Linked DNA regions of Homo sapiens: region 1 is linked to region 2. Evidence: fine-mapped expression QTL. A gene starts in region 2. The other region holds a variant in brackets. All regions are shown on one strand. Distances are from middle to middle.

Region 1 (2,897 bases), 22 kb after region 2:
TCGAACTCCTGACCTCAAGTGATCTTCCCACCTCAGCCTCCCAAATAGCTGGGATTACAGGAGTGTGCCACCATGCTCAGCTAATTTTCTGTAAAAAATGTCATAGAGATGGGGTCTTGCTATGCTGCCCAGGCTGGTCTCAAACCCCTAGTCTCAAGCAATCCTCCCACCTTGGCCTCCCAAAGTGCTGGGATTCCAGGCATGAGCCACCACACCTGGCCCTGTTTTTCTTAAAGTTCTCAGTCTCCTCTCTGCCTTACCCCCATCCCCTTTTCCATCTCCAGGACCTAGGGCAGAGACAAAGTGAGCATTCCCTAAAAAGCTTTTATGAGGCAAAATGAAAACCAGCTCACGCCTATAATCCCAGCACTTTGGGAGGCCAAGGTGGGTGGATTACCTGAGGTCAGGAGTTCAAGACCAGCCTGACCAACATAGAGAAACCCCATCTGTACTAAAAATACAAAATTAGCCAGGCATGGTGGCACATGCCTGTAATCCCAGCTACTCAGGAGCCTGAGGCAAGAGAATCACTTGAACCTGGGAGGCGGAAGTTGCAATGAGCCGAGATCACTCCATTGCACTCCAGCCTGGGCAACAAGAGCAAAACTCTGTCTCAAAAAAAAAAAAGAAAAGAAAAGAAAACCAGGTCCCTAACACCGAAGAGTTAAAAGAAATAAGTAAATTTGGCAAATTGGTCTTTTTGTGAGTTAGCTTATAGGCAACTGATCGAGGGTCTCTTTCCCGTCTTCACCCTGCAATTGTGGCTCAGGGCAAGCTGCCAGCTCCCTCCTGCCAATGCAGGAGCAATAGAGCTTGGCCTCCTCTTGCAGGGCGAGTTTGGGAGTCAGATATGAAGCCACTAATCCGGGACCTTTTTGGGACCCAAGGCACTCATCTGCCCCAAGCATACCAGGCAGGCCAGGTGCAATGACTCATGTCTGTAATCCTAGCACTTTGTTTTTGCGACGGAGTCTCGCTCTGTCCACCCAGGCTGGAGTGCAGTGGCAGAATCTTGACTCACTGCAACCTCCACCTCCCAGGTTCAAGCAATTCCTGCCTCAGCCTCCCAAGTAGCTAGGACTACAGGCGCCCACTGCCACGCTCGGCTAATTTTTGTATTTTCAGTAGAGACGGCGTTTCACCATGTTGGCCAGGCTGGTCTCAAACTCCTGACTTCAAGTAATCCATCCACCTTGGCCTCCCCAACTGTTGGGATTACAGGTGTGAGCCACTGCGCCCGGCCAGTCCTAGCCCTTTGGGAGGCTAAGGCGGGCGGATTGCATGAGCTCAGGAGTTCGAGACCAGCCTGGGAAATGTGGT[G/A]TAACCCCGTCTCTACTAAAAATACAAAAAAAATTAGCTGGGTGTGGTGGTGTGCACCTGTAATCCCAGCTACTCAGGAGGCTGAGGTACGAGAATCGCTTGAACTCAGGAGGCAGAGGCTGCAGTGAGCTGAGATTGTGCCATTGCACTCCAGCCTGGGTAACAGAGTGAGATTCTGTCTCCAAAAAAAAAAAAAAAAAAAATTCGAGACCAAACATACCTGGGATTTGGAAGGATAGATCTGTTCCCCCAGGGTGGAGACAATGGTCCATTGAATGGGAACAGCTGAGCATCTTGTGTGGGTGGCCAGTGCCTACAAGCGTGCCACCTTTCTCCAGCTCACACCTGTGGCAGACATCAGTAATTGATTACAGAATTCCTCCCCTGAAACCAGAACTCGGTGTTCTGGCCATCTGCTACTTCCCAGTCACACGAAGTAGAATCCTCCACCTGCTCACCCTGGATCTGGTGCCCTTCGCCTTGGTTTCCTGTTGGGGCTCTGAGGGACAGGTGGGCACTGGCCTGACCCCTGCCTTACCCACAGAGTGGATCCGGGCTGCATGAGCCCAGATGTGAAGAATTCCATCCACGTCGGAGACCGGATCTTGGAAATCAATGGCACGCCCATCCGAAATGTGCCCCTGGACGAGGTACGGTCCTGAGTCTGTGGGGCAGGACGGGAGGTAGTGCCTTCATGCCTAGCCCCCTCCCCACTCCACCCCCATTCACATGCCTGCTGTCCCCAGATTGACCTGCTGATTCAGGAAACCAGCCGCCTGCTCCAGCTGACCCTCGAGCATGACCCTCACGATACACTGGGCCACGGGCTGGGGCCTGAGACCAGCCCCCTGAGCTCTCCGGCTTATACTCCCAGCGGGGAGGCGGGCAGCTCTGCCCGGCAGAAACCTGTCTTGTAAGTCAGCCTGCTCCTCGGTTCAGCTGGGTGCTTTCACTCCTGCTGGGGCTCAGGGGCTGTGGGACCTAGGTCGGGGAGCCAGCCCTGCACAAATGCAGCCCAGGCTTGAGCCAGGGAGGTGGAGGCTGCAGTAAGCTGTCATCACACCACTGCTCTCCAGCTTGGGTGACAAAACAAGACCCACTCTCAAAAAAAAAGAGGAAACACACATTTTTTAAAAAGCCGGGGACGGGGCCAGGCGTGGTGGCTCATGCCTGTAATCCCAGCACTTTGGGAGGCCGAGGCAGGTGGATCACCTGAGGTCAGGAGTTCAAGACCAGCCTGGCCAACATGGGAAACCTCATCTTTACTGAAAATACAAAAATTAGCCGGGCTTGGTGGCAGGTGCCTGTAGTCCCAGCTACTCAGGAGGCTGAGGCAGATGAATCACTTGAACCCAGGAGATGGAGGTTGCAGTGAGCCAAGGTCACGCCACTATACTCCAGCCTGGGCAACAGTGTGAGACTCTGTCTCAAAAAAAAAGAGGATGACAGAGCAGGATCTGAGGGGTTGAGGGGAGCTGGGGGCTGCCACTAGAGCCAGGATAGGCCGAGACACTGGGATGGGCAGCCTTTGGACTGTCCCAGGCGGGCCCTCCCAAAGCAGGGGGTGATTGCATAGA
Region 2 (2,897 bases):
GCCACCATGCCTGGCTAATTAAAAAAAAAAAAAAAAGTCTGGGCGCGGTGGCTCACGCCTGTAATCCCAGCACTTTGGGAGGCCAAGGTGGGTGGATCACCTGAGGTCCAGAATTCGAGACCAGCCTGACCAACATGGAGAAACCCCGTCTCTATTAAAAATACAAAATTAGCCAGGTATGGTGGTGCATGCCTATAATCCCAGCTATTCCAGAGGCTGAGGCAGGAGAATGGCTTGAACCCGGGAGGTGGAGGTTGCTGTGAGCTGAGATCGCACCATTGCACTCCAGCCTGGGCAACAAGAGTGAAACTCCATTTCAAAAAAAAAAAAAGTTAGAAGAGACAGGGTTTCACTTCATTGCTTAAGCTGATCTCCAATTCCTGGCCCCACGTGATGCTCCCACCTTGGCCTCCCAAAGTGCTGGGATTATAGGTGTGAGCCACTGTGCCCAGCCTTCTTTCTCATGAGAAATTAAAAATTCTGGCCAGGCGTGGTGGCTCACACCTGTAATCCCAGCACTTTGGGAAGCCGAGGAGGGTGGATCACCTGAGGTCAGGAGTTCAGGACCAGCCTGGTCAACATGGTGAAACCTCATCTCTACTAAAAATACAAAAATTAGTCGGTCATGGTGGTGCACGCCTGTAATATCAGCTACTCGGGAGGCTAAGGTGGGAGAATTGCTTGAACCTGGGAGGTGGAGACTGCGGTGAGCCGAGATCCCGCCACTGCACTCCAGCCTAGGCAACAGAGCGAGACCGAATCTAAAAAAAGAAAAAAAAAATCTAGTATTTTCTTCCCACCCCACGTAATTGTTTTGCACCCAGGGGTGAGTGCCCCCCACTTTGCAGACGTGCCTAGACCTCTCCCCACAAACATGATGACTAGAGTTGGAGCTGGGCTAGCGCTGCCTCTTGTTCACTGGGTTCACGTGGGCACGTGGCTCCACTCCGGTCACTGCTTCCTGGGCAGAGGGATGACGTGGAAGGTAGACCTAGGGGGGACAGGGTTGCTTCCTGCCCATGTCCAGCATTCTAGAATTGTCCACATCTAGGCAGGGCGTTCCACCATCAGTGCTGGACTGGACCACCCAATTCCTTTGGACGCTTGACTCAGCCCAAACCCGTGCTCCCTCCAGGACCCTGGGCAGGGCAGCCCCAGCTCCAGGTAATCGGCACTGAGAAGAGTACACCTGTCACCGCCTGGCAGGGGCTCGCTCCTTTCTCTGGTGCTGCTCATTCGCGAGGCCTGAGACGCGGACCGTCACCTTCCCCGGGCCCAGCCTGGCCTCAATGCAGGCCTCAGAGAGAGGGACAAAACCCGGCCCGCCTCCCTCCCCTCCCCAAGGCGACCACCAGTGTCCTGGGGGTCCACAGGGCCTCTCCAGCTCTGATCCGAGTTCCCGGCTGCAGCTGGTTTGGGTCTGTGGGGGCCTCGCGCAGGGAAGCGGAGGCCCCTTCTCTAGGCTCCTACATCCTCCTGGCCTGCCCCAGCAGAGCTAGCGGCCCTCCGAGACAGCTGGGCCTCGCAGCTCCCAGCCGAGGCCTGTCGCTGGGAGAAAGAAGAATGAATGAAGGGCGGAAGGGGCGGGGAGGGGCGGGGCGCGCCGCGCCAGCTCGCGGCGCCCCCAGGCCGGGCCGCAGCGGGGCGTGGCCTCTAGAGGCGTGGCCTTGGGCGTGGGGGCGGGGTTTTCTGGTGGGGGCGGGGCCGCGCAGGGCCGTTCCCGCCGCCGGCCGCCCGCGCCCCGCCCCCGTGCCGCAGCTCACAGGCCCCGCCTCGGTCCGCCCCTCCGCTCGCTCCCCAAGCCGCCGCGGCGCCGAGCCGGTTTCCCCGCCGGTGTCCGAGAGGCGCCCCCGGCCCGGCCCGGCCCGGCCCGCGCCCTCCGCCCCCGCCTCCCCGGGCCGGCGGCGGTGGGCGAGCTCGCGGGCCCGGCCGCCCCCAGCCCCAGCCCCGCCGGGCCCCGCCCCCCGTCGAGTGCATGAGGTTGACGCTACTTTGTTGCACCTGGAGGGAAGAACGTATGGGAGAGGAAGGTGCGCGGGCCGCGGGGTGTGGGGCGAGGGCCTGGAGGGGGTGCCCGGGGCAGCGTGGGGCACGGGAGGGGGCCGGGTCTGCCAGGAGGCCGCGCCCCTGCCTCCTCCGGGATGAGCTCGTCCTTACGAAGCCCGCAGGCCCCTCCCTGTCCCCCTCCCGCCCGGGATCCCCCTCCCCGGCCCCCGGCGAGCTGCCCTCCTGCGGGTCTGGGGGCCCCTGGACCCTTTTTCCTCCTCCCACGTCCCCCCGCGAAGGACTCCCAGACACTGCCCACCCCGCGTCGGCCTCCATCCGCGTGCTCTGTCCACCACCCGGGCCTCGCCCTGGGGCCACCCTTTATCCAGTCTCGGAAGAAAGAGCGGCTGGGGAAGCCGCAGCCCCGGGTCCCAGTGGCCGCCGGGCGCCTGCCCGGCTCTGTGACCTTGAGCCAGGCGCTGACTTCCTGGTCCTCAGTTTCCCCTTCTGTACATTTGGAAACTGGGTAGTTGCCCCCCCGGTGTCGGTGATTGGGGGCCAGATGGGTAGAGCGGAGATAGGCGTCCAGGAAGCCGGAGGCCGTGTACTGCGGGAGCCTCATCCACTCTCCCTGTCCGTGCCCCAAACCCGGTGCCTGCCCTCAGTCTTGGCTGGGAGCATGACTCATCCTAACCTCCTCTTTAGCCCCTTCTCCCTCACTGGGGCCCAAGGCGCAGTACTGCACTGCAGTTAGGGTTCAAGGACTCCCCCAGCCTAGGACAGGGTCTGGGGGCCCCTCCTTGGATCTCCTTCGCTGACCTGTCACTTAGATCCACCTGGCCCCAAGGCAGGGCCTGACTCCACACCTCCCCCTGCCACCAACTCTTCCCAGGCCCATGAAAACCTGATTG

What was found. PIP is the estimated chance that this variant, and not a neighbour inherited with it, causes the effect. A credible set is the group of variants that fine-mapping cannot tell apart.
Region 1: its variant is the best candidate, but not a certain one, in a credible set for the expression of LIMK1 in whole blood (TOPMed, PIP 0.82).

What each region holds. Positions count from the first base shown.
Region 1 is chr7:74,104,011-74,106,907 of GRCh38, forward strand. It overlaps LIMK1 (LIM domain kinase 1), which reads left to right. Exons shown (of 16, transcript NM_002314.4): 6 at 1,865-1,970; 7 at 2,067-2,233. Among named protein-coding and RNA genes, the nearest start is that of LIMK1, 22 kb to the left of the region's middle. RefSeq lists an enhancer at 1,464-1,964. The variant G/A (reference allele first, on the strand shown) is at 1,321.
Region 2 is chr7:74,082,016-74,084,912 of GRCh38, forward strand. It overlaps LIMK1 (LIM domain kinase 1), which reads left to right and starts at 1,789. Exons shown (of 16, transcript NM_002314.4): 1 at 1,789-2,030. The coding sequence starts at 1,976. RefSeq lists enhancers at 489-1,167, 1,163-1,272, 1,168-1,846, 2,333-2,602 and silencers at 1,543-1,812, 1,933-1,982, 2,093-2,142.